Homo sapiens: one gene and its partner. The protein of the gene in region 1 purifies or fractionates together with the protein of each later gene. This does not show direct contact. Each region holds a gene or a part of one and is shown on either strand. Other genes may lie near its edges. The genes, in order: SLC44A2 and RP2.

What was found.
Region 2: the proteins of SLC44A2 (region 1) and RP2 purify together in Homo sapiens (affinity purification with mass spectrometry; 4 studies listed by BioGRID and IntAct, with this or other methods). This does not show direct contact.

What each region holds. Positions count from the first base shown.
Region 1 is NC_000019.10:10,630,263-10,647,386, forward strand, and holds the end of SLC44A2 (choline transporter-like protein 2), read left to right. Parts: intron 1-794; coding exon 795-879; intron 880-1,012; coding exon 1,013-1,123; intron 1,124-1,212; coding exon 1,213-1,273; intron 1,274-1,363; coding exon 1,364-1,487; intron 1,488-1,605; coding exon 1,606-1,689; intron 1,690-1,781; coding exon 1,782-1,894; intron 1,895-4,493; coding exon 4,494-4,625; intron 4,626-4,711; coding exon 4,712-4,811; intron 4,812-4,900; coding exon 4,901-4,993; intron 4,994-5,168; coding exon 5,169-5,253; intron 5,254-6,060; coding exon 6,061-6,323; intron 6,324-6,399; coding exon 6,400-6,494; intron 6,495-7,381; coding exon 7,382-7,485; intron 7,486-7,593; coding exon 7,594-7,667; intron 7,668-7,760; coding exon 7,761-7,831; intron 7,832-7,964; coding exon 7,965-8,053; intron 8,054-12,104; coding exon 12,105-12,189; intron 12,190-12,634; coding exon of another isoform or gene 12,635-12,756; exon of another isoform or gene 12,757-13,016; coding exon 13,017-13,123; 3' UTR 13,124-14,295; downstream 14,296-17,124.
Region 2 is NC_000023.11:46,838,193-46,850,065, reverse strand, and holds part of RP2 (protein XRP2), read right to left. Parts: intron 1-11,873. UniProt on the Homo sapiens protein: Acts as a GTPase-activating protein (GAP) involved in trafficking between the Golgi and the ciliary membrane.

The DNA of each region.
Region 1 (17,124 bases):
TCACTTGATCCTAGGAGGTAGAGGCTGCAGTGAGCCAAGATTGTGCCACTGCTCGCTCTGTCTGGGCAACAGAGAAAGACTCTTGTCTCAAAAAAGAAAAAAAAACAAAAGAGGCCGGGCGCAGTGGCTCACGCATATAATCCCAACACTTTGGGAGGCTGAGGCGGGTGGATCACCTGAGGTCAGGAGTTCGAGACCAGTGTGGCCAACATGGCAAAACCCCGTCTCCACTAAAAATACAAAAATTAGCTGGGCATCGTGGCGGGCACCTACCTGTAGTCCCAGCTACTCGGGAGGCTGAGGCAGGAGAATTGCTTGAACCCAGGAGGCGGAGGTTGTAGTGAGCCCACATCACACCATTGCACTCCAGCCTAGGCAACAGAGCAGGACTCCATCTAAAAAAAAAAAAAAGAGAAAAATAAAAAAAGTTTTCTATAGGGTGGTTAAGAAGTCTTAACAGGTCGGGTGTGGTGGCTTACACCTGTAATACCAACACTTTGGGAGGCCAAGGCAGGCGGATCACCTGAGGTCAGGAGTTTGAGACCAGCCTGGCCAACATGGTGGAAACCCCATCTCTACTAAAAATACAAAAATTAGCCGGGCTTGGTAGCGGGCACCTGTAATCCCAGCTACTCGGGAGGCTGAGGCAGGAGAATTGCTTGAACCCGGGAGGCGGAGGTTGCAGTGAGCCGAGATCACACCATTGCACTCCATCCTGGGCAACAAGAGCGAGACTCTGTCTCAAAAAAAAAAAAAAATCTTAACAGTTTCCATTCTCCCTTCTCTAACTCCAGGAACAAACCCTATCTGTTTTATTTCAACATTGTGAAATGTGCCAGCCCCCTGGTTCTGCTGGAATTCCAATGTCCCACTCCCCAGGTAACCTGGTCCCCACCGTTCCCTTTTTCCTCTCCCCGCTTCCCATCCTTTTCCCCCTGTGAATGTGGGCTGCGACCTCAGTCCTGAGCAGTCTGCCCCAACTCCACCCAATCCCTTCCTTCTCCCCTCCCAGATCTGCGTGGAAAAATGCCCCGACCGCTACCTCACGTACCTGAATGCTCGCAGCTCCCGGGACTTTGAGTACTATAAGCAGTTCTGTGTTCCTGGCTTCAAGAACAATAAAGTGAGTTGTAGACTGTCCTGAGAGCACAGGTATGGGCAGTGGCAGTGTACTAGACTTGGGGACTCACCTCCCTCCATCTCTCTTGGCAGGGAGTGGCTGAGGTGCTTCAAGATGGTGACTGCCCTGCTGTCCTCATCCCCAGCAAACCCTGTGAGTCAGGGGATCCCAGGAGGCTCAGGTGGTGACGGGGAGGCTCTGCAGAGGCTCAGCCTGACTGGTGCCATCCTCTGCTCCATGCAGTGGCCCGGAGATGCTTCCCCGCTATCCACGCCTACAAGGGTGTCCTGATGGTGGGCAATGAGACGACCTATGAGGATGGGCATGGCTCCCGGAAAAACATCACAGACCTGGTGGAGGGCGCCAAGTGAGGATATTGGCGCACCGCGCCAGGGTCTCACTTTGCTGGGTGGGACAGGCAATCCCCTGTGGTTGGCCTGATCATGGAAGAGGGTCTGACCCGAGCCTTGTCCTCCTTCCCCCAGGAAAGCCAATGGAGTCCTAGAGGCGCGGCAACTCGCCATGCGCATATTTGAAGATTACACCGTCTCTTGGTACTGGATTATCATGTAAGTCAGGAGGGAAGGGGCCTCTCCCCTGGCTGCCCCCTCTAAGCCTGGCTGAGGGTGGAGTCTGTTCATGACCGTTTTCTTTTCCCCAGAGGCCTGGTCATTGCCATGGCGATGAGCCTCCTGTTCATCATCCTGCTTCGCTTCCTGGCTGGTATTATGGTCTGGGTGATGATCATCATGGTGATTCTGGTGCTGGGCTACGGTGCGTCACCCCCTCCCTGTGGCTTCTCTTTCCTGAATCCGCACACTGCCCTGCCCTTTCCCGTGGAAATGGCCCATCAGGAAAACAAAAAAAAGTCAGGCCGGGCGTGGTGGCTCACGCCTGTAATCCCAGCACTTTGGGAGGCCGAGGCAGGCAGATCACCCGAGGTCAGGAGTTCAAGACCAGCCTGACCAACATGGAGAAACCCCGTCTCTACTAAAAATACAAAATCAGCCGGGCATGGAGGTGCATGCCTGTAATCCCAGCTACTCAGGAGGCTGAGGCAGGAGAATCGCTTGAACCTGGGAGGCGGAGGTTGTGGTGAGCCGAAATCACGCCATTGCACTCCAGCCTGGGCAACAAGAGCGAAACTCCATCTCAAAAAAAAAAAAAAAAGAAAAAATGTCTCAGCACCGTAGTTAAGGATGCATACTCTGGTATCAGAATAGCAGAGGTTCAAATCCTGGCTTTGCCAATTCTTTGGGCAAGTGCCTCAACCTAACTGTGCTTCAATTTCTTTCTTTTTTTTTTTTGAGACGGAGTTCTGTTCTTGTCACCCAGGCTGGAGTGCCATGGCGCGATCTTGGCTCACTGCAACCTCCGCCTCCTGGGTCCAAGCTATTCTCCTGCCTCAGCCTCCCAAGTAGCTGGGATTACAGGCATGCACCTCCATGCCCGGCTGATTTCGTATTTTTAGTAGAGATGGGGTTTCTCCATGTTGGTCAGGCTGGTCTCGACCTCCTGGCCTCAGGAGATCTGCCCGCTTCAGCCTCCCAAAGTGCTAGGATTACAGGCAGGAGCCACCGCGCCCGGACTGCTTCAATTTATTTCTCTATAAAATGAGGGTAATTCATATTTCTAGTTGGCAAACTAAATGACAAGGAGGTAATGAGCAGATAAAATATGGGTAGGGGCCTGTTTAGTTCAGGCCTGTGGAATCCAGAGGCACAATATCGTGCTCAACAAAACAGTGCTTCATATTTTGGATTTTTGTTGTTTTTGAGTTGTTGTTTTGTTGTTGTTGTTGAGACGGAGTCTTGCTTTGTCACCCAGGCTGGCGTGCAGTGGTGCAGTCTCGGCTCACTGCAATCTCTGCCTCCCGGGTTCAAGCAATTTTCCTACCTCGCCTCCCGAGTATCTGGGATTACAGGCGCACACCACCATGCCCGGCTAATTTTTTTTGTATTTTTAGTAGAGATGGGGTTTTACCATATTGGCCAGGCTGGTCTCGACTTCCTCGTGATCTGCCTGCCTCGACCTCCCAAAGTGCTGGGATTACAGACGTGAGCCACCGCGCCCAGCCTTGATTTGTTTTTTGAGACAGAGTCTCACTCTGTCACCCAGGCTGGAGTTCAGTGGCACAATCACAGCTCACTGCAGCCTTGACCTCCTGGGCTCAAGTGATCCTCCCGTCTTGGCCTCCCAAGTAGCTGAAACCACAGGCAAGCACCATCATGCCTGGCTAAATTTTTAATATTTTTGTAGAGACAGGTTCTCCCTATGTGGCCCAGGCTAGTCTTGAACTCCTGAGCTTGAGCAGTCCTCCCGCCTTGGCCTCCCTAAGTGTTGGGATTACAGGCGCAAGCCACTGTGCCTGGCCCATATTTTGATTATTCCTTGAACTTTCCTGGAAGAAAAATGCTTGGCAATCCAATTTGAGGACACTCATAGTAAAATATTCATATTAATAGTGGTTTCTAGCTGGGTGCGGTGGCGCACGCCTGTAATCCCAGCAATTTGGGAGACAGAGGTGGGCGGATCACCTGAGGTTGGGAGTTCGAGACCAGCCTGACCAACATGTAGAAACCCCATCTCTATTTTTTTTTTTTTTTGAGACAGAGTCTCTCACTGTCGCCCAGGCTGGAGTGCAGTGGCGCGATCTCAGCTCACTGCAACCTCCGCCTCCCGGGTTCAAGCAATTCTCCTACCTCAGTCTCCTGAGTAGCTGAGATTACTGGCGCCCACCACCACGCCCAGCTAATTTTTTTTTTTTTTTTTTTTTTTTGTATTTTTAGTAGACACGGGGTTTCACCATGTTGGTCAGGCTGGTCTCGAACTCCTGACCTCGTGATCCACCCGTCTTGGCCTCCCAAAGTGCTGGGATTACAGGCGTGAGCCACCGCGCCCGGCCAACCCCATCTCTATTAAAAATACAAAATTAGCCGGGCATGGTGGCGCATGCCTGTAATCCCAGCTGCTCGGGAAGCTGAGGCAGGAGAATCGCTTGAACCCGTGAAGTGGAGGTTGCGGTGAGCCGAGATTGTGCCATTGAACTCCAGCCTGGGCAACAAGAGTGAAACTCCGTCTCAAAAAAAAAAAAAAAGAGAGAGAACTTAGACCATGGCAGCATATGATTATGATTCCAAGTAGGGGGAAAGGGTTCTGGAAGTTCTCTTCTGAAGGTGACACTTGAGCAGAGACCTAAGGATGTGTGGGATCCAGCCATGGGGAGAGAATGCACCGGGCGGTGGGAACTGCAAGTGTAAAGTCCCTGAGGCAGAAGCCTCGATGTTTGCTTCTGTTAAATGGGGGCAGTTGTAGCTGCTTTGCAAAGTTGCAGGAGGCACTGCTGGACTGAGCTTGTGGTTCCCCCATGCAGGAATATTTCACTGCTACATGGAGTACTCCCGACTGCGTGGTGAGGCCGGCTCTGATGTCTCTTTGGTGGACCTCGGCTTTCAGACGGATTTCCGGGTGTACCTGCACTTACGGCAGACCTGGTTGGCCTTTAGTGAGTCACAGTCTCCCATTCCTGCCCCCACATGAGGCCTTGGAGGGAGTGGGGAGCCCAGCCGGCTCAGCCTTTGCCCTTTGCAGTGATCATTCTGAGTATCCTTGAAGTCATTATCATCTTGCTGCTCATCTTTCTCCGGAAGAGAATTCTCATCGCGATTGCACTCATCAAAGAAGCCAGCAGGTGGGGGGCCAGGGTGCCAGGGGCCAGGATGGAGCTGTCCCTAGAGTTGTGTCTTTTGCCCTGACGCCTGTGTCTCTGCTCTTCCCTAGGGCTGTGGGATACGTCATGTGCTCCTTGCTCTACCCACTGGTCACCTTCTTCTTGCTGTGCCTCTGCATCGCCTACTGGGCCAGCACTGCTGTGTATCTGCCCCCAGACACTGATCTCTGACCCCAGGGATGGCTAAAGACCAACTTTGCCTAGAAGTGACCTGCAGCTTAGGGATAGGGCTGGAAACTGGTGGGAGAATGGATTCTTTCCCACAAAAGTCCCTGGGGTCCTCAGTCCTAGACCTCTGCTTCCTTAACGAACCTCCAGCTTCCTGTCCACTTCCAACGAAGCGGTCTATAAGATCTTTGATGACAGCCCCTGCCCATTTACTGCGAAAACCTGCAACCCAGAGGTGGGCGTCCCCGGGGTGGGGAGGGCAGGTATTGCCCCAGCAGGCCCCAGATGATTTGAAACCTCTCATGTCCACTTGGAGGTTCAGCAAACAATTGGCCCCTGTTGCATGTCCTGTGCTAGGTGTGGGGGAGGACGCACAGTGGGGAAGAGACTCTCTAACTGGATCGAACAACTTCCCAGGGCAAGCTGGCTTCCTCTCTTCAACTTGACCAGGCCTTCACCCTGGGTGCTAAATCACCCATTTTTCCCTACTTCCTTTTTTTTTTTTTTTTTTTTTAATAAGACAGAGTCTTGCTCTGTCACCAGGCTGGAGTGCAGTGGCATGATCTCAGCTCACTGCAACTTCCAACTCCCTGGTTCAAGCGATTCTCCTGCCTCAGCCTCCCGAGTAGCTGGGATTATAGGCACACACCAGCACACCAGGCTAATTTTTGTATTTTTAGTAAAGACAGGGTTTCACCATGTTAGCCAGGATGGTCTCGATCTCCTGACCTCGTGATCCACCTGCCTCTGCCTCCCAAAGTGCTGGGATTACAGGTGTGAGCCACCTCGCCCGGCCCATTTTTCCCCATTTCATTTCCTGTCTCCATGCCCTCTTCTTGACCCCAGTGATGGCCACGTCTTGTTTCTAGAATCCCTTCCTTTGCACAAGCCATATTCTGAACTCTTAATTCCTTCCCTTAACTTCAATCCCTATGTCTCCTGTCCTACCTCATGGTTTTCCTGGCCCCACACCTGATGCTCAGAGCCCACTGTGAACCCCTGGTGCCTCTTTTTGGACTCGGTTCTCCCTTCTCTCCCACAGACCTTCCCCTCCTCCAATGAGTCCCGCCAATGCCCCAATGCCCGTTGCCAGTTCGCCTTCTACGGTGGTGAGTCGGGCTACCACCGGGCCCTGCTGGGCCTGCAGATCTTCAATGCCTTCATGTTCTTCTGGTTGGCCAACTTCGTGCTGGCGCTGGGCCAGGTCACGCTGGCCGGGGCCTTTGCCTCCTACTACTGGGCCCTGCGCAAGCCGGACGACCTGCCGGCCTTCCCGCTCTTCTCTGCCTTTGGCCGGGCGCTCAGGTGGGCTGGCGTTGCAGGCAGGATGGGGTGGAGGACGAGGCCTGGCCCAGCCACCGACCACTCCCTCGGCCCGCAGGTACCACACAGGCTCCCTGGCCTTTGGCGCGCTCATCCTGGCCATTGTGCAGATCATCCGTGTGATACTCGAGTACCTGGATCAGCGGCTGAAAGGTACGTCCCACCCACGGTTCGCATTAGCTCCTGTTGCGGGGCGAGGCTGAATAGCGAACCAGGATTGGGTCTTGCTTGGAGGTGGGCGGGGCCAAGATAATAGAGCAGTGATGGGTTTCTGTCTATGACGGGGTGGAGTTCAGGAGTTGGCGTGATTGAGTCCTGCGATGGAGGAGCAAACCAGAGAACCTACTGGGTGGAATTCTTGCTGTTGAGGGGACAGGCCCAAGAGGCCTGGCCCACCATTGGTTATTACCAGAGTGAATTGGAGTGGTATATATTTGCGCTGAAGAGAGCAGGAATAAGACTGGTTTATTAGCCGGGCGCCGTGACTCACGCCTGTAATCCCAGCACTTTGGGAGGCTGAGGCGAGCGGATCACCTGAGGTCAGGAGACCAGCCTGGCCAACATGGTGAAACCCCGTCTCTACTACAAATACAAAAATTAGCCAGGCATGGTGGTGTGTGCGTCTGCAGTCCTAGCTACACGGGAGGCTGAGACAGGAGAATCACTTGAACTCCGGAGGTTGAGGTTTCAGTGGGCCGAGACCGAGCGACTGCACTCCAGCCTGGGCAACAGAGCGAGACTCCATTTCAAAAAAAGGAAAAAAAACTGGTTTATTTTTCTTAGAGGAAGGGCTCTGGGGCTGGGATTGATGGTACTTTGTTTTAGAGACAGGATCTCTCACCCTGTCACCCAGGCTGGAGTGCAGTGGCACCATCATAGCTCACTGCAGCCTCAAACTCCTGGGCTTAAGTCCCTGTCTCTTTGACAGCGTGGACTCAGGAGACCTGGACATTGGCAAGTGTGTGTGATAGGGAAGAGGGGATCCCTTCCAAGTCAGGCTGGTGTCCCCTCACTTCCACATCCCTTCCCTTCTCTTCCAGCTGCAGAGAACAAGTTTGCCAAGTGCCTCATGACCTGTCTCAAATGCTGCTTCTGGTGCCTGGAGAAGTTCATCAAATTCCTTAATAGGAATGCCTACATCATGGTGAGTGGGCCTGGGACCCCCAACCAACCCGCCAGCTCCTGCTGGGTGAGAGGACCACCCCCCATGCCCACCCAGTGGGTCTGATCTCTCCCTCCCACTCTCCTCCAGATTGCCATCTACGGCACCAATTTCTGCACCTCGGCCAGGAATGCCTTCTTCCTGCTCATGAGAAACATCATCAGGTCGGGAATCATTATCATCTTCCTCCTGCCACCCGCCTCTTCCCCTAGTCCCTGAAGCCAGCATTCACACCTGCCCCTCACTGTCCCCTGCAGAGTGGCTGTCCTGGATAAAGTTACTGACTTCCTCTTCCTGTTGGGCAAACTTCTGATCGTTGGTAGTGTGGGTGAGTGCCGCCCACCTAGCCTCTCGGGGTGTGGGAGCCTGATTTCTGTCTTCTGTGATGAGTGTCATCTTCTTAGGAGGCTGTTTCCTATATCCAGAACCCTTCGCCATCTTGCTTTCTTCTCCTTCTCCAGGGATCCTGGCTTTCTTCTTCTTCACCCACCGTATCAGGATCGTGCAGGATACAGCACCACCCCTCAATTATTACTGGGTTCCTATACTGGTATGGACCTCTGGGGAGAGATGGGGGTTTGGGAAGAAAGAGGTGTTGGGATTTGCTTGGTCTTCTTTGACTAGATAAATGTGGATAGAGGTCAGAGGTGGGGAATTGATTATTTATTCAGACCACAAACTTTTTGTTTGTTTTTGAATCAAGAGTCTTGCCCTGTCGCCCTGACTGGAGTGCAGTGGTGCAATCTTGACTCACTGCAACCTCTGCCTTCCGGGTTCAAGCGAATTCTCGAGCTTTTGCCTCCCGAGTAGTTGGGATTACAGGTGCCTGCCCCCACACCTGCCTAATTTTTGTATATTTATTTTTTAATTTTAATTTAATTTTTTTTTTGAGACAGACTCACTCTGTTGCCCAGGTTGGAGTGCAGTGAAATGATCTTGGCTTACTGAAACCTTCACCTCTCTAGTTCAAGCGATTCTTGTGCCTCAGCCTCCTGTGTAGCTGGGATTACAGGCACCTGCCACCACACCTGGCTAACTTTTTTTTTTTTTTGAGATGGAGTTTCACTCTTGTTGCCCAGGCTGGAGTGCAATAGGGTGATCTCAGCTCACTGCAACCTCCGCCTCCCAGGTTTAAGTAATTCTCCTGCCTCAGCCTCCCGAGTAGCTGAGATTACAGGCACGAGCCACCACGTGTGGCTAATTTTACATTTTTAGTAGAGACGGGGTTTCTCCATGTTGGTCAGGCTGGTCTCGAACTCCCGACCTCAGGTGATCCACCCGCCTCAGCTTCCCACAGTGCTGGGATTACAGGCGTGAACCACCACACCTGGCTAATTTTTGTATATTTAATAGAGATGGGGTTTCACCGTGTTGGCTGGGCTGGTCTCAAACTCCTGACCTCAAGTGATCCGCCCGCCTCGGGCTCGCAGAGTACTGGGATTGCAGGTGTGACCCACCACGCCCGACCTCAGACCACAAACATTATCAAGCACCTACTGTGTGTCAGGCATCGAGGTGGAGGGCTTCCCTCTAAAGGCCTTAGAGTTTGGGGGTAAACAGATACTCCTCCATAATGATATTGGTGAATGTATGATTGCAAACTGGGACATGCCACGAGTATGTCTGTATAGCACAGGGAACTGTTTGAAACTGTGGTGGGGGCTGGGCAGGTGTGGGGGGGGTCCAGGTGGTGCCATGCAGGTGATGTTGGATCTGAGATCTGAAGCTGCAGGCAATATCCAGGCAGAGGGAACAGTACAGTGGCCCTGAGGTGGGAGTGTGCCAGGAAGCAGTGGGGCTGACGTGGAAGGAGTAAAGAAGTGGAGATAAGGGCCAGGCACCGTGGCTCACACCTGTAATCCCAGCACTTTGGGAGGCTGAGGCAGGTGGATCACCTGAGGTCAGGGGTTTGAGACTAGCCTTGCCAGCATGGCGAAACCCAGTCTCTACAAAAAAAATACAAAAATTAGCGGGGCGTGGTTGTGGGCACCTGTAATCCCAGCTACTCGGGAGGCTGAGGCAGGAGAACTGCTTGAACCTGGGAGGCAGAGGTTTCAGTGAGCCGAGATCGCGCCACTGCACTCGAGCCTGGGTGACAGAGTGAGACTCTCTCTCAAAAAAAAAAAAGTGGAGATACGGCCAAGGAGGTTAACAAGGCTGTGGAGGGATTGAGCCTTCATTGCAAGGGCAGTATTGTATCTCAGTGTAGGTCTTGAAGCCCATTGACCTAGTTTCTTATTTTAGTTCCTCTATTTAGTAGTTCTAAGATGAGTAAGAGTAATCTTGGGCAAATTATTTAATCCTCTAAGGTCCACTGACTTTTTTTTTTTTTTTTTTTTTTCTGCGATAGAGCCTTGCTCTGTCACCCACGCTGGAGTGCGATGGAGTGATCTCTGCTCACCACAACCTCCACCTCCCGGGTTCAAGCGATTCTCCTGTCTCAGCTCCCTGACTAGCTGGGATTACAGGCATATGCCACTGTGCCCGGCTAATTTTTGTATTTTTAGTAGAGACGGGGTTTCACCCTGTTGGTCAGGCTGGTCTCGAACTCCTGACCTCAGGTGATCCACCCACCTCGGCCTTCCAAAGTGCTGCCAATAAAGGCATGAGCCCCTGTGCCTGGCCATTTCATTGTTTTGAATTTTTAATTTAATATAATAGAGATAGGCCAGGTGTTGTGGCTCAGGCTCTACTATAATAACAATAATAATAGAGGCAGTGTCTCCCTATATTGCCAGGCTGGTCTTGAACTCTGGACTCAAGGGATCCTCCTGCCTCAGCCTGCCAAAGTGCAAGGACTACAGGCATGAGCCACCACGCCCAGCCAGGTCCACTGACTTCAGTCAACAAATGTTTATCTAGCAGCTACCAAGGCCGTGTGAGTCTCCAGATTGCTAGGGATGCAGCAGTAAATGGGACTGGGTCTAGTGAGGATGTGAGCATTAAACCTGAAAGCCCTAAACATGCATAAAATTGCAGCTGCACCAAGAGCTCAGGAGGGGTGCCCAGTGCTAGGAGGACATAAAATAGGCTCTAGAGGCCGGGCATGGTGGCCCACACCTGTAATCCCAGCACTTTGGGAAGCCAAGGCAGGCGGATCATGAACGTCAGGAGATTGAGACCATCCTGGCTAACATGGTGAAACCCCATCTCTACTAAAAATACAAAAAAATTAGTCAGGTGTGCTGGTACGCACCTGTAGTCCCAGCTACTCAGGAGGCTGAGGTAAGAGAATCGCTTGAACCCGGGAGGTGGAGGTTGCACTGAGCCAAGGTCCCACCACTGCACTCCAGCCTGGGTGACAGAGCAAGATTCCGTCTCAGGAGGGAAAAAAAAAAGGCTCTCAGCCAGACGCAGGGGCCCACATGTATAATCCCAGCACTTTGGGAGGCCGAGGCAGGCAGATCGCTTGAGCTCAGGAGTTTGAAAACAGCCTGGGCAACATGGCAAAACCCCATCTCCACAAAAAAATACAAAAATTAGCTGGGTATGCTGGAACATGCCTGTAGTCCCAGCTCCTTGTAAGCCTGAGGTGGAAGGATCACTTGAGCCTGGGAGGTCAAGGCTGCAGTGAGCTGAGATGGGGCCACTGCACTCTAGCCTGAGCAACACAGTGAGACCCTGTCTCAAAAAAAAAACAAAAAAAAAACGCCCACTCTAGGTGTCGTAGGTGGTTTCCTGGAGGAGGTGGGACTTGAGGACTTGCTCTTTGAGCTGAAAGCAGAAGGTCGATGGGGCATAAATTAGATTTAAGTCAGGACAATAGCACATGCAGAGGCCCAGGGGTTAAAGAAAGCAAGGGTGAGGCTGAGTGCAGTGGCTCATACCTGTAGTCCCAGCACTTGGGGAGGCCAAGGTGGGCGAATCTCTTAAGCCCAGGATGGGTAATGGGTAACGTGGCAAAAACCCATCTCTACAAAAAATACAAAGGTTAGCCGGGCACAGTGGTGCACATCTGTAATCCCAACTACTCCGGAGGCTGAGGCGGGAGGATCACTTGAGCCCAGGAGGCAGAGGTTGCAGTGAGCTGAGATTGCACCACTACAATCCAGCCTGGGCTACAGAGTGAGACCGTGAGACCCTGTCTCAAAAAAAGAAAAAAAAAAAAGGCCGGGTGTGCGGTGGCTCACGCCTGTAATCCCAGCACTTTGGGAGGCTGCGAGGCAGGTGGATCACCTGAAGTCAGGCGTTTGAGACCAGCCTGGCCAACATGGTGAAACCCCGTCTCTACTAAAAATACAAAAATGAGCCAGGCGTGGTGGCACGTGCCTGTAGTCCCAGCTCCTCCGGAGGCTGAGGCAGAATTGCTTGAACCTGGAAGGCAGAGGTTGTAGTGAGCCAAGATCGTACCATGGCACTCCAGTCTGGGCAACAGAGTGAGATTCCGTCTCAAAAAAAAAAAAAAAAGACGGAGAGAGAGAAAGAGGATTTTGTGTGGATGGTGGGGCCCTGCCAGCGGGGGTGAGGGGTTGGGATGTCACTAATCCAAAGAGGGTTTCTCAGCAGGGGAAGGATGTGGTCCCAGCATAGGATGGACTCAGGGGGTGGGGGCTGCTCTGGGAAGGACACGGAGCAGGGACAGCTCGTTTCTCCTTGCCCAGACGGTGATCGTTGGCTCCTACTTGATTGCACACGGTTTCTTCAGCGTCTATGGCATGTGTGTGGACACGCTGTTCCTCTGCTTCTGTGAGTGACCCCTCACCCCAAACCTTGCTGGGCCCCGAATCCCTTCTTTCCACTGGGCATCACATCACCCTCCAACGGGGCAACACGCTTGCCTGCCCCCAGCTTCCCCAGGGCTTGGCTGTCCCTCGTCCTGGGTCCCCAGCCTGTCTTCCTGGTTTCCTTTTGCGCTTAGAAGCAGCTCCGACCTCCTGTCCACTGGCCCAGGCTGCAGCCTGGACGCTGCCCTGGAGCCCGCCCGCGCTTCGCAGTTTCTGGCTTTGACTGGGGGGAGGGGATCTGTGGCTGCCACTAACTCTGGTCTCTCCATCTGTTTTTTTTGTTTGTTTTTTTCTTCTCTCTTCCTCTCCTCCATGCCTGCTGGCTTCCCTGTTCTTCCCTGCCTCCCTCTTTCCCTCCCTTCCCGACCACCCCATTTTCCCCCTGCCGGTTCCCGGGGGGAGCCCAGGTGAGGACCTGGAAAGGAATGACGGCTCTCAGGAGCGACCCTACTTCATGTCGCCCGAGCTGAGAGACATCCTGTTGAAGGGGAGTGCGGAGGAGGGGAAGCGGGCAGAAGCCGAGGAGTAGAGAGTGAGGGAGACTGGCGTGGGGGCCAGGTTTCCTCCATGTAGACTGGGGGTGCATGAAGCGGGGGGGTTCCTGGCCTGCGAGTGTGGGGATCCTGTGTGTCCCTCGGAGCCCACTACAGTCTGCCCCTCTCTGGTCCCAGTGTGTCTGCTTTCTAACCCTCTGAGGCTTCTCTGTGACCCTCATCCACCTACCCTGTCCTTGAGGCCCCTGCCCGTGGGCTCCCCTCATGCCTCCTGCTCTGGGACCTCTCTCCACAGTGGAGGACCTGGAGAGGAATGACGGCTCGGCCGAGAGGCCTTACTTCATGTCTTCCACCCTCAAGAAACTCTTGAACAAGACCAACAAGAAGGCAGCGGAGTCCTGAAGGCCCCGTGCTCCCCACCTCTCAAGGAGTCTCATGCCGCAGGGTGCTCAGTAGCTGGGTCTGTTCCCCCAGCCCCTTGGGCTCACCTGAAGTCCTATCACTGCCGCTCTGCCCCTCCCCATGAGCCAGATCCCACCAGTTTCTGGACGTGGAGAGTCTGGGGCATCTCCTTCTTATGCCAAGGGGCGCTTGGAGTTTTCATGGCTGCCCCTCCAGACTGCGAGAAACAAGTAAAAACCCATTGGGGCCTCTTGATGTCTGGGATGGCACGTGGCCCGACCTCCACAAGCTCCCTCATGCTTCCTGTCCCCCGCTTACACGACAACGGGCCAGACCACAGGAAGGACGGTGTTTGTGTCTGAGGGAGCTGCTGGCCACAGTGAACACCCACGTTTATTCCTGCCTGCTCCGGCCAGGACTGAACCCCTTCTCCACACCTGAACAGTTGGCTCAAGGGCCACCAGAAGCATTTCTTTATTATTATTATTTTTTAACCTGGACATGCATTAAAGGGTCTATTAGCTTTCTTTCCGTCTGTCTCAACAGCTGAGATGGGGCCGCCAAGGAGTGCCTTCCTTTTGCTCCCTCCTAGCTGGGAGTGACGGGTGGGAGTGTGTGTGCCCAGGTGGGGGTGTCTCCTGGCTGGGAAGGAGGGAAAGGGAGGGAGAGTTTTGCGGGGGTTGGCAGTGGAGAGCAGGCTGGAGAGGAGATGGCTAATAGCTGTTTAATGGAAACCTGCTGGGCTGGAGGGAGTTAGGCTGAATTTCCCGACTTCCTCTGCCAGTTATTGACACAGCTCTCTTTGTAAGAGAGGAAAGAAACTAAACCCACCCAAGGGATGATGTCAGGGGGAGAGGTGGAGGGCAGATGTCCTGGGCAAACCGGGCCCCTCTGCCCACACACCTCACTTGATCCTTTTGCCAAACTTGTCAAACTCAGGGGAACTGGCTTCCCAGTTGCCCCTTTGCCATATTCCAAGTCCCCCTCAGACTTCATGTCTCTGCTCATCAGCACTGTCCCAGGATCCTGGAGAGGGAGAACTCCTGGCCCCAGGGGAAAGAGGGGGGGGTCTCCCGTTTCCTGTGCCTGCACCAGCCCTGCCCCCATTGCGTCTGCACACCCCTGCGTGTAACTGCATTCCAACCACTAATAAAGTGCCTATTGTACAGGTCCAGGCCTGGTGTGTTTGTTGGGGGCAGTGAGCCAGTGGCGGCTGGTAGGGGGAACCCCAGCTTCCAAGGCCCTAGGAGTCTCTGAACTAGGGCGATTCTCTCAAAGGGAACGAGGAGGGGGCAGGAAACCCACTGGCTGCTGGCTCTGCCTGAATTCCAACCTTCAGGCAGCTCAGATTTCCCGATTAGGCTCTAATCCCTGGACTCCAGAAGGCAGAGGCAGCCTGTCCACCTCCGCCATCACCCATCCTGGACACACGCCCCCAGGCCTCCCCTCTCTCAGGGCCCAGGCACCTGAGGTCCTGCAGTCACTATGCTCCCCAGCTACTTTGGATCTGCGAAGGGACTGACTGCCCTTGGGGTGGGCCCCACTGCCTGGAAGCTCGCTGCTGCCCCCTCGTGCCAGCTGCCAGTGTCAGTCACCTCCAGGCAATCCGCCCCAACATTTCAATTCTTTCCACCTCCTCTCAGGGAATTTTTCTTCAATATCCACTTTTTTTTTTTTTTTTTTTTTTCAGACAGTCTTGCCCTGTCACCCAGGGTGGAGGGCAGTGGTGCGATCTCGGCTCACTGCAACCTCCACCTCCCGGGTTCCAGCGATTCTTCTGCCTCAGCCTCCCGAGTAGTTGGGATTACAGGTGCCTGCCACCACGCCTGGCTAATTTTTTGTGTTTTTAGTAGAGACCAGGTTTCGCCATGTTGGGCAGGCTGGTCTCAAATTCCTCACTTCAGGTGATCCGCTGGCCTCGGCCTCCCAAAGTGCTGGGATTACAGGCGTGAGCCACCTGGCCCAGCCTTTTTTTTTTTTTTTTTTTTTTGAGACAGGATCTCACTCTGGCTGAAGCTAAAGTGCAGTGGTGCAATCATGGCTCACCACAGCCTCAGGTGATCCTCCCATCTTAGCCTCCCGAGTAGCTGGGACTACAGGTACACACCACCACACCTGACTAATTTTTGTATTTTTTGTAGAGATTGATTTTTACCATATTGCCCATGCTGGTTTTTTTTGTTTGTTTGTTTGTTTTTTGAGACAGAGTCTCCCTTTGTGGCCCAGGCCACAGTGCATAGTGCCACAGTGCAGTGGCACAGTCTCAGCTCACTAAACCTCCTGGATTCAAGTGATTCTCGTGCCTCAGCCTCCTGAGTAGCTGGGATTACAGGCGCGTACCACCACATCCAGCTAATTTTTGTAGTTTTAGTAGAGACGGGGTTTCACCATGTTGGCTAGCCTGGTCTCAAACTCCTGACCTCATGTGATCCACCTGCCTCGGCCTCCCAAAGTGCTGGGATTACAGGCATGAGCCACCAAGCCTGGCCAGCATTTTTGTTTGTTTGTTTCCAAGAAGGCATTTGAACCCAGGTCTTGGCTCCAGAGTCCTCAAGTTCTACCCTATGCTGGCACTGACCCCTTCCTCGATGCCTTTGTTTCCCTGGATCCTTTGAATCTGGCATTTTATTCAGCCCCAGCTCCTGTTACCATGCCCACCTAAAAAATAGCTCCTGGCGGCCGGGTGCGGTGGCTCATGCCTGTAATCCCAGCACTTTGGGAGGCTGAGGCGGGTGAATCATGAGGTCAGGAGTTTGAGACCAGCCTGGCCAACATGGTGAAAACCTGCTGCTACTAAAAATACAAAAATTAGCCAGGCATGGTGGCACATGCCTGTAATCCCAGCTACTCGGGAGGCTGAGGCAGGAGAATCGCTTGAACCCAGGAGGCAGAGGTTGTGGTGAACCAAGATGACACCATTGCACTCCAGCCTGGGCAACAGAGCAAAACTCTGTCTCAGAAAAAAAAAGAAAGAAAGAAAAAGATTTGTGGTACGATACATATAGCATAAAATTTGCCATCTCCATCTCTTTCTTATTTATTAAGCCACTGGGTCTCACTATGTTACCTGGGCTGGCCTTGAGCTCCCGGACTGAAGGGATCATCCCGCCTCAGCCTCCCAAGTAGCTGGGATGACAGGCACTCGCCACTGTGCCTGGTTTATGTTTAATTTTTTGAGGAACCACCATAGTGTTTTCTGGCTTCATGCTTTGGCTCCACTTCTGGGTTGGCTTCACTCTCTGCCAAGTTCCTTTATCTGGGTATATTCCCTGCCTCCAACCACACTGTGCTGTGATAGTTAATTTTAGGTGTGAACTTGGCTGGATTAGAAAATACTCAGATTTGAGCTGTGATGTGGTAAAAATAAGACAAAGAAAAAAAAAAAAACAGTGGCTGGGCTCCGTGGCTCACGCCTGCAATCAGCACTTTGGGAGGCCGAGGTGGGCAGATCGCTTGAGCTTGAATTCGAGACCAGCCTGGGCAACATGTGGAAAGCTTGTCTCAACAAAAACTATGAAAATTAGCAGGGTGTGGTGGTCATGCACATGTTGTCCCAGCTACTCAGTAGGATGAAGTGAGAAGGTCACTTTAGCTCAGGGGGTGGAGGGTGCAGTGAGCTGAGATCACACTACTGTGCTCCAGCCTGAGCGACAGAGCAACACGTCTGATAAAGCATTATTTCTGGGTGAGCGCCATCCAACTTGCTGGGGCTCCGACAGAACAGAAAAAGGAGAGAAAGCATTTTCCTCCTCAGAACTGGGACACTCTTCTCCTCCTGTCTTGACACTCCAAGACTTATACCAGTGATCCCTGGTTCTCAGGCCTTCGGCCTTGGACTGGGAATTACACCATTGGTGTCCCTGGCTCTGAAGCTTTAGGATTCAGACTGAGCCTCGCTACTGGCTTTGCAGGGTCTTCAGCTACTGGAGCTGCTGGCTTTTCAGGGTCTGCAGTCAATGCATGTGGTAGGACATCTCAGCCTCCATGATCACATGAGCCAA
Region 2 (11,873 bases), on another chromosome or scaffold:
ATTTTGTTATGGCAGCCTGTTTTAGTCTGCTCAGACTGCAAAAGCCAACCTCTTGCTATGTCATCACCAGACCTGTCCTCTGTGTGAAGGAGAGGGAGGGAGCAAGTGCAAGCTAACTGAATCTTCTTATAAGGACACTAATCCTATCAGATCAGCACTCTACCTTTATGACCTCACTTAACCTTAATTACTTCCTTAGAGGTCCCATCTCCAAATACAGCCATGTGTAGGGGGGTAGGGCTTCAACATATGAATTTGACAAACATTCAGTCCATAACAGCTGCCAATGCTGAGGAGTTAAATGTAATTTACTACCCTAAGTATTTTCTCTGGACGCTCCACTTTTCCTAGCTCATAGGGAGAAATTAATCTGATAGCTAAAGATTTTATAGCTAAATAGTTCTGTAGTATAAAATTAGTTGGATTGTCAGCACGGCCTTCCAAGGAGAAATTTAAGATTTATGTTGCTGTACTTTCTCAACAATTCCTGAAAGTTTTTCAAAACAAAAAGCATTAGGAGCTAGACACAGTGGCTCACATCTGTAATCCCAGCTACTTGAGAGTGGGCCAGTGGCCTAGTGAGACTAGGAGTTTGAGACTGGCCTGGGTGACACAGTGACACTCCCCTAGCTCTAAAAAAGTTTTTTAAAACTTAGCAGATTATTTGAAGTGAGTTGGTGGAAGGGGGGTAAAAAAACACAAAAACCCTTAGCTGGGCATGGTGGTGTGCGCCTGTAGTCCTAGCTACTCAGAAGGCTGAGGCAGGAGGACTGCTTGTGCCTGGGAGTTCAAGGCTGCAGTGAGCCATGATCATGCCACTGCACTCCAGCCTGGGTGACAAAGCAAGACCCTGACACTTTAAAAAAAAAAAAGTAATAATAAACAACTGAAACTGAAATCCTTCGTAATTTTGCAGGTTACTAGTTCTGAAATAAAGTGTCTAGAATCACAAACATGGAAAGGTCATGTTTTAAATTATTTTTTCCTAAGAGCCACTTATGAAGTGAGTTTAGTTTAGACTGTATTTTTTTTTTCTGACACAGGGTCTCACTCTGTTGCCCAGGTTGGAGTGCAGTGGCACACTCACAGCTCACTGCAGCCTCGACCTCCACCGTTCAAGCAATCCTCCCCGCCTCAGTCTCCTGAGTAGCTGGGACTACAAGTGCACACCACCATGCACAACTAATTTTTGTATTTTCTGTAGAGATGGGGTTTCGCCATGTTGTCCAGGCTGGTCTCGAACTCCTGGACTCAAGCGATCCACCCACCTCAGCCTCCCAAAGTGCTGGAATTACAGGCATGCGCCACCGTGTCTGGCCTAGACTATTTCTTACTACAATCCTTAAAAGGTAATGGATATACTTTAAAAAATCAAGGAAAGTGGCCAGGCGTGGTGGCTCACGCCTGTAATCCCAGCACATTGGGAGGCCGAGGCGGGTGGATCACCTGAGGTCAGGAGTTCCAGACCAGCCTGGCCAACATGGTGAAACCCCGTCTCTACTAAAAATACAAAACTTAGCTGGGCATGGTGGTGGGCGCCTGTAATTCCAGCTACTTGGGAGGCTGAGGCAGGAGAATCGCTTGAACCCAGGAGGCAGAGTTGCAGTGAGCCGAGATCGCACCACTGCACTGCAGCGTGGAAGACAAGAGCCAAATTCTGTCTCAAAAAAAAAAAAAAAAATCAAAGAAAAATTTCAAGAGTTGTAATTCGTCTGATATCAATTTAATGTCCTACAGCTATTAAACCAAGTTAAGCATTATTTTCCTAACAGAAAACAAAAATGAACATCTTATTATCTTACTAAGCGGCAATACAAATTTTTCATTAAAATTCATCTCCACAGTTAAATTTCCATAATGATAATGTGAGATAAAATAATGGGATTTGTTAATTCCAATGAAAATCCAGTCTGAATAGAAGTAAAAAGATTCAGGAGTATAAGAAGCACTATATATGTACCAGGCACCATACTAAGTGCTCTATAATCATTCACTCAATCCATAAAAACCCCATAAGGGTTGTGTACTATAATTATCTCTGTTTTATACTTGAGAAAATTGAGGCACACAGAGACTATATAACTTGTCCAAGGACACACTGTGAGTCCATATATATATATATATATATATATATATGTATATACACATATATGAGTCCATATATATGTATATACGCATATATATGCGTGTATATATATACACACACATATATACACATATATACACACATATATACACATATACACATATATGTGTGTATATATATACACACACACATGTGTGTATGTACACACACACATGTGTGTATATACACACACACATATGTGTGTATATACACACACACATATATGTGTGTATATATACACACACACATATATATAGTGTGATCGATATAGATATATATATGTAAAGAGAGATATGCCTGTTTATGAACTCTCTATTCCATTGATTTGTGCATCTAGTAAGCAATTGTTTTGTATATGTATGTATATATATACACACATATATATGGTGTATGTGTATATACATACATACATACATACATATACATATAGTGCAGTGAACCGAGATCGCGCCACTGTACTCCAACCTGGCGACACAGCAAGACTCCGTCTCAGAAAAAGAAAAAAAATTCCTAGATGTGAAACCAAAAACACAATCCACAAAAGAAAAAGTGAGTGGAAATTGGACTTTTACTCAAATTGAAAATGTTTGCTCTTCAAAAGACACTCTTAAGAGAAGGCAAGTTATTAACTGGGAAAAAAGTATTTGCAAAACATATATATAACAGGGGACTTGTATCCAGGACATATAAAGAGCTCTGAAAAACTCAATAATAAGAAAACAAATAACCCAATAAAAAAATGGGCAAATGATTTGAATAAACATTTTACCAAAGATATATGGATGGCAAATAAGTACATGAAAAATGCTCAACATTTAGGTAAATACAAGTCATTTGGGAAATGCAAGTTAAACTACAATGAAACATCACTACACACCTATTAGAATGGCTAAACATTTTTTTTTAAAGCTAGGCGAGGTGCAGTAGCTCACAGCTGTAATGCCAGCACTTTGGGAGGCCAAGGTGGGACGATCGCTTGAAGCCAGGAGTTTCAGACCAGCCTGAGCAACACAGCCAGACCTTGTCTCTACAAAAAATAAAAATATTAGCCGAGTGTGGTGGCAGACACATGTAGTGTAGTCCTAGCTACTTGGGAGGCTGAAGTGGGAAGATTGCTGGAGCCCAGGCAGTCCAGGCTGCAGTGAGCCATGATCATGCCACTGTACTCCAACCTGGGAGACTGAGCAGACCCTGTCTCTTAAAAACAAATTAACCTGACAATACCAAGCAAGTGATGTGAGGATGCAGAGCAACTGTATCTCTCATATACTGCTGGTAGGCAAAATGGCATAGCCACTTTGAAAAATAGTTTGGCAGTTTCTTTTTTAAATTTTTAATTAATTTTTTTTTTATAGAGACAGGGTCTTGCTCTGTTGCCCACACTGGAGTGCAGTGGTGCAATCAGAGCTCACTGCAGCTTCAAACTCCTGGGCTCAAGCAATCCTCCTGTCTCAGCCTCCCAAGTAGCTGGGACTACAGGCATATGCCACTCTGCCTGGCTATGTTTATCCATTTTGTAGAGGTGGGGTCTCACTATGTTGCCCAAGCGGGTCTTGAACTCCTGGCCTCAAGCGATCCTTCTGCCTTCACCTCCCAAAGTGCTGTGATTACAGGTGTGAGCCACTGACCTGGCAGTTTTTTGTAAAGTTTAATAAACAATTTCCATATGATCAGCAATCCCACTCATGAGTATTTACCCAAGTGAAATGAAAACTTATGTTCACTCAAAAACCTGTACACAAATATTTATGGTAGCTTTATTCATAATTACCAAAATTGGAAACAACCCAAATGTCCTTTAACTGATGAATGGATAAACAAACTGTGATATATCCATACAACGGAATACCACTCAGCAATTAAAAAGGAACTCCCGGCTGGGTGTGGTGGTTCATGCCTGTAATTCCAGCACTTTGGGAGGCCAAGGTGGGCGGATCACCTGAGCTCAGGAGTGCAAGACCAGCCTGGGCAACGTGTTGAAACCCCATCTCTACCAAAAAGATACAAAAAATTAGCTGAGTATGGTGGCACTCGCCTGTTGTCTCCACTACTTGGGAGGCTGAGATGGGAGATCACTTGAGCCCCGGAGGCTGAGGCTGCAGTGCGCCAAGATTGTGCCACTGCATTCCAGCCTGGGTGACACAGTGAGACCCCATCTCAAAAAAAAAAACTCTTGATACATGCAACAACATGGATAAATCTTAAATGCATTATGGTTAAGTGAAAGAAGCCAGACTCAAAAGGTTACGTATTGTATGATTCCATGTATATGACATTCTCAAAAAGACAAAACTATAGGGATAGAAAACTTATCAGGAGCTGGGAGTGGGGCTGACTACAAAGGAGCAAACTGACTATACAAAGGAAGAACTTTTGGGGGCGATGGAACCATTTTATATCTTGATTGGTGATAGCTCCACAACTGTATTTATTTGTCAAAACTCATAGAACCGTACACTTAACAAGGGTAAATTTTACTGTATATAAATTACACTTCAATTAAAACAAATACTTAAAGTTTAAACATTGTTAAGTCAGCTTCAGGGCTAGATAGCTATGTAGCTGAGAGGTTATTTCACAAATGAAAACATTAGTGCCACATAATTATAGAACTAATAGTGCTGAAATATAAATTCTTAATCTCAATGACTTTGAAACATAATAAGAAAATGAACAGGACAAATAGTTTCTCTCAATAATAATATAAAACTTATGATCTTAGTCAATATACACACCTCCCAGAAGACAGATCCACTATCTTTGCTATTAAATTGTGTTCTGGGCATGCAAAGCTAAAGGGTAGCCTCTGTGACACTATGGTTTGAGTTTTCCTGTGACTTAACCCAAGTGACACCTACATCATCATTGCTACTGTCAATACTGTCAGTAGGCTTTTAGCCTATTTGGAATTTATACAAGTAAAAAATGTACTAAGCTTTTATGAACAGACACTTCTCAAAAGAAGACATTTATGCAAGCCAACAGACACATGAAAAAATATTCATCATCCCTGGCCATCAGAGAAATGCAAATCAAAACCACAGTGAGATAACCATCTCACACCAGTTAGAATGGCGATCATTAAAAAGTCAGGAAACAACAGGTGCTGGAGAGGAGGTGGAGAAATAGGAACACTTTTACACTGTTGGTGAGACTGTAAACTAGTTCAACCATTGTGGAAGACGGTGTGGCGATTCCTCAAGGATCTAGAACTAGAAATACCATTTGACCCAGCCATCCCATTACTGGGTATATACCCAAAGGATTATAAATCATGCTGCTATAAAGACACATGCACATGTATGTTTATTGCGGCACTATTCACAATAGGAAAGACTTGGAACCAACCCAAATGTCCATCAATGATAGACTGGATTAAGAAAATGTGGCACATAAACACCATGGAATACTATGCAGCCATAAAAAAGAATGAGTTCATGTCCTTTGTAGGGACATGGATGAAGCTGGAAACCATAATTCTCAGCAAACTATAGCAAGGACAAAAAACCAAACACTGCATGTTCTCACTCATAGGTGGGAATTGAACAATGAGAACACTTGGACACAGGAAGGGGAACATCACACACCGGGGCCTGTCGTGGGGTTGGGGGAGGGGGGAGGGATAGCATTAGGAGATATACCTAATGTAAATGACAAGTTAATGGGTACAGCACACCAACATGGCACATGCATACATATGTAACAAACCTGCACGTTGTGCATATGTACCCTACAACTTAAAGTATAATAAAAAAATTTTTTTAAATAAAAAAAATGTACTAAGCTTTGTAGAGTACCAGGGTCAAAAATATATTTTTTAAATGATTGTTTTAATAAAAGGGGCTATGAAAAATTCAACTCATATCCTATGTATCTAATGATCTTAACCACGACCTTGCTATTTCAGCTTTCTGATACCTTTTCTTTTTTGATGCTTCATTCTTAAAACTTCTATAAAAATTTCTGAGGCTGGGTGCAGTGGCTCTTGCTTTTAATCCCAGCACTTTGGGAGGCCGAGGTGGGAGGATCAGATGAGACCAGGAGTTCGAGACCAGCCTGGCCAATATGGCAAAACCCTGTCTCTATTAAAAATACAAAAATTACCCTGTATCTTGAGCTTATATAGTATAAGCTCAAGACCAGTATCTTGAGCTTATATACTATTGATGATTCGAGAAACTGAAGTACTACATTTATATTAGCTTACCATTTTGTGAAATATATAACAACAAAATAGAATTATGAAATTTTAGGATTGAAAAGATTCCCCATATCATCTAATCTAATCTGAATCTATTTTTACATCCTATCACATTCCCTTTGTTCATCCAGATTTGCCTGAATGTTTCTAGCAATGCTTACCTCCCCTCATGGGCTGCTCAAAGAATTCAAGAACTGGAAGGGATCTTAGGAAACTGAGGGCTAAAAGCTAAATTAGTTTACCAGTGAGGTGTAGTTAGGTGCAGAATACAAATTAAAATTCCAGCCCCATATACTTTTCACTCTCTATGCTTTTTACCTTTATCAAAATTTTATATGGGTGAAGAAACAACACTCACACATTGCTGGTGGAAATATAAATGGTGCAGGCACTCTAAAAAACTGTTTAGCAGTTCCTCAAAAAGTTAAACATAGGCCAGTCGCGGTGGCTCACGCCTGTAATCCCAGCACTTTGGGAGGCCAAGGTGGGCAGATCACGCAGTCAGGAGATCGAGACCATCCTGGCTAACATGGTGAAACCCCGTCTCTACTAAAAATACAAAAAATTAGCCGGGCGTGGCGGCGGGCGCCTGTAATCTCAGCTGCTGGGGAGGCCGAGACAGGAGAATGGCGTGAACCCGGGAGGCGGAGCTTGCAGTGAGCTGAGATCACACCACTGCACTCCAGCCTGGGCGACAGAGTGAGACTACGTCTCAAAAAAAAAAAAAAAAAAAAGTTAAACATAGAGTTACCATATGACCCAGCAATTCCAAACCTAGATGTGTACACAACAGAAATGAAAACATGTCCAGACAAAAACTTGTATACAAATGTTCATAGCACCATTATCCATAATAGACAAAAAGTAGAAACAACCCAAATGTCCATCAGCTGATGAATAGATAAATAAAATGTGGTATATCCATACAATAGAATAAAGTCTTGATACATGTTACGATATGGACAAACTTCAAAAACATGCTAAGTGAAAGATGCCAGTCACAAAAGGCTAAATATTGTGGCTCCAATGAAGTGAAATGTCCAAAATAGGAACACTTATAGAGACAGAAAATAAGTTTGTGGTTTCCAGGGGCTCGGAGAGACGAGAATGGGGAATGACTACTAATGGGTACAGGGTTTCTTTTTCCAGGGATGAAAATGTTCTAAAATTAGACCATGGTGATAAGCCTGTGAACTTACTAAAAAATACTGAATTATATACTTTATTTTTAAACTAAATTTATTTTAAATTTTTATGGATATATAATAATAGTAGTATGCATTTATGGGGTACATGTGATATTTTCATACAAGCATACAACAATGTAATGATCAAATATGGGTAACTGGGATATCCATTACCTCAAACACTTATCATGTCTTTGTGTTGGGAACATTCCACATTTTCTCTTCTAGCTATTTTGAAATATACAATAAATTATTATCAACAATAGTTGGCTGTGGTGGGTAGTGGGGAGGAGAGGATGAAGAGTGGTTGGTTAATGAGTACAAAAACACAGTTAGACGGCTAGGCACTGTGGCTCATGCCTGTAATCCCAGCACTTTGAGAGGTCGAGGCAGGCAGATTGCCTGCGGCCAGGAGTTTCGAGACCAGCCTGGCCAACATGGTGAAACCTCATCTCTACTAAAAAATACAAAAACTAGCTGGGTGTGGTGGCACGCGCCTATAATCCCAGCTACTTGGGAGGCTGAGGTGAGAGAATCGCTTGAATCCAGGAGGCGGAGCAGTGAGCGGAGATCATACCACTGCATTCCAGCCTGGGCAACAGAGTGAGACTCCATCTCAAAAATATATATACAGTTAGATAGAATGAATTATATACTTTAAATGGGTGAATTGTATGGCATATGAATTATATCTCTAAAAAGCTATTTTTAAAATTAATAAACAAAGAACTAGTTATATCCTTTAAACAACTTTATATAGAGGATTTAAAACCTACTGGCAAATTCTTTGACACTCCTCCCATTGAGAGGTCACCTCCTCTTGGAACTGGGTGGGCATTTGTGACTGCCTCAGCATTACTCCTGCCACATCCAAATTAAGTCTAATTAAGTGACTTAAGAATTCACTTAATAAGCTAGTTAGAAAAAAACCATGCAGCTTCTGCCAGTCTCTCTTAGGATGCTTGCCCTTGGAACCCTGCCATCACACTGTAAGGAAGCCAGGAATACATGGAGAGGCCCCAGCTGAGCTCCCAGCCCAAAGCCAGCATCAACTTGCCAGCCAGCTATGTGGTCAAGCCATCTTGAAAGCTGTCACGGTTGATGCCACATTGAGCAGAGTCAACCCTGCTTAACCTTATGCAAATTAAAGAGTTATGAACAAAATATCTGCCATTATTTTAAACCATTAAGTTTTAGGGTGGTTTGGTACACAGCAATGGGTAACTAGAATACTTTTCATACTTAAAAGAAGGCTAAAAACAGTATCTAGCCTCCTCCTACTTAGTGCAGACACTTCTTTCTAGCAGATTACCACCCTAACTGTCTGACAATTTTGACTAACATGGAGATCAGGTCCTCAACGAAGCCACCCCTTCCACTGATGACCAATCCTGGGAATTATGATCTGCCTTATGTTAAAACCAGTTCTGTCATGCCCAACCTCTGGTTTAAGTTCTTTCCTCAGAGGTGACCATTACTGTCTAAACCTCTTCTTCAGGACAGGCCTTTACCTTACTAAACAGTAGAGAAATCTTTAGCATTGTCCTACTATATAGCTGAGGAACCTGAAGTGCACAAATTGGCTGCTTTACCCAAAGTTACACAATAGATACTCGAATTTCTGGTATAAGATTTTTGTTTAGTATTATTTCTATTGAATATGAGACAAATATAACAGACACATGTGTTGTCCTTACTCAAATCACAATTTTCACACTTAAGCCATAATTGTTTAGAGTTAATCCTCATTTCTATTATCTAGGAGGAAAAGTATGGGCATGAATACTGGAAGATGAAAACTACTTTTCCGTATCACTCTTCCTCACCTCATATGTACTTAAATGTTTCCTGTTTTAACTCCAGAAAGCCAGTAAACTCTTTTAGGGCAGGGATAAGTCTTATAATTTTGAGACTTACTTGGTGTTTGAGTACATACATACTGAATAATTTGCCTACCTATGGGTGGCAGCATACAGATAAGGATAAAAACATTTCTTTTGAAATAATTTAAACACAAGTCTTACAATCCAAAAATATTTCTCATCACATCAGTGTAAGAATTGTAATCTTTTTTCTTTTTCAAAGTCAGTAGCAATAGAAAATGAGCTTCTTACACTGTTGACTACAGTATGTCAGTTGCTATGACAATGCTTAGTCCCCAGACATTCCTTCTAAATGAGACAATTTCTCCCAGCTTCAGTCCCCTAAGACTGACCCAATTACACAACTCAAACCCCAAAACCCAAGGGGTGCCCTTCAATAAAGATACTCTGGGCTGGGAGCGGTGGCTCACGCCTGTAATCCCAGCACTTTGGGAGGCTGAGGCAGGTGGATCACCTGAGGTCAGGAGTTCAGGACTAGCCTGGCCAACAAGGTGAAACCCTGTCTCTACTAAAAATATACAAAAATTAGCCAGGCGTGGTGGTGCACGCCTGTAATTCCAGCTACTCAGGAGGCTGAGGCTGGAGAATCGCTTGAACCCAGGAGGCAGAGGTTGCAGTGAGCCGAGATCGCGCCACTGCATTCCAGCCTGGGCGATGACAGAGCCAGACTCCATCTCAAAAAGAAAACATCAAAAAAAGATACTCTGATTACACAACCTAAGGAAAAATGTAAACACCCTTTTCTAAGCTGCAAGGAAATTTTTCAGGCAACCCATTTTGTTTTTACATGTAAAAGTCTTACAAGTTGAATGGTAATTGTCTGATATAACTTTAAAACTGTATATGCTATAATCCATAACCACATTCCAGAAGCCTAAACTTTTAATATAAATCATTTCTATTAATATGCATGCATCATATCTCATTTATGTTCTCTGGGCTGTATTTGCAATCTGTTCCTTTTAAGGTACAACTGAAATCTTCTAGGAGCAAGCAAGGCCATGCTCAGTAAACGTATCATTGGACTAATACAGAACATTTGCACACTAGCCCAAATTAACCTCACGGGAGGCAAGGAACTAGGAAAAAATATTTTATTTATTTATTTTTTTTTTTTGGAAACAGGGTCTCACTCTGTTGCCCAAGCTGGAGGGCAGTGGCCCGATCATGACTCATTGCAGCCTCTAAGTCCCAGGCTCAGGTGATCCTCCCACCTCAGCCTACTGAGTAGCTGGGACTACAGGTGTGCACCACCATGCCCCACTAATTTTTGTATTTTTAGTAGGAATGAGGTTTCGCCATATTGCCCAGGCTGGTCTGGAACTCCTGGGCTCAAGAGAGCCACCAGCCTTGGCCTCCCAAAGTCCTGGGATTACAGGCATGAGTCACCATGCCTGGCCCTAGAAAAAAATATTTTAAATTGTATAAAATTTAACAAGCTATCAAAATGAGGCAACTTAGAAAGAATTCCTAGTAATTCCAAAAGAAAAAAAAACTAAAAAGAAAAAGCTATGTTGGGAAATGTGGTATCTGCATTGTCTCAAAATGTAAGCTGGTAATTCTCTTCAACAGTCCAAAATATTTTAAAACTGGGGTTTTTTTCAGAATGCTCATTTGGTTAGAAATTCTCATTTTGATTGGCTGAGTTGATCAAGATTTTAACTTTTATTATACACACACTCAGAAGCATGAGCTTATTTTATATATCCAATAACATCTCTTACAACTCTACAACTACAGAACTTAGTAGTGTTCTCAAAAAAAAAGGTTCTCTGTAAGCTCAAAACAGTTTCTACAATTGAAAGTTTATTACACACTCATTTGTGGGGAAAAAGCTTAGATGTTGGTGTCCAATGTTATATTTCTCAATGCATTTACTTAGCCAATGGGCAAAAGAAGAAAAAAAATCACAGGACACACACACTTATCTAAAAGAAGGATTAACATGAGAAGTCCTAACTAACCTGAATATTATGTTAATAAACATTAACTGTAAAACAATTTATTGTGAAACGATGAGTCATAGGCAGCCAAGACTACTATAAATAAAAAAGGCATTTTATTTAGTTTAGATTTAGCCTGAGTTCAAAAGAAAAAACTAAAATAAAAATGAAATATGCAACTTTCTCTAAGGCAGACAATTCAAGCTAAAAGAACATTGTTAGAAAGCCAAAGGCTGAGGAAAACAATATCTTTTAAAAACCGCCCATCAGATAACTTTAAATGGCAGGTGCAATCTTCTTGTGAAATAGAAAGCATAGTACTTTCTTCCCCTACATTATAAAATGCTACTATCGAGTATGACTAACAGAGAATAAAGGTACCATGTGACCCAAGAAGGGTGTGTATGAGAAGTAGGGGCAGAAAGACGGGGCTGAGAAAAGCTGCAAAAAGCTTTCAATTTCCTAACTCTGACTCTTAGAGACCAGAGCTTACCTGAATACATTCTGCTGGGGATTGGAAATCATGCAGAAAGG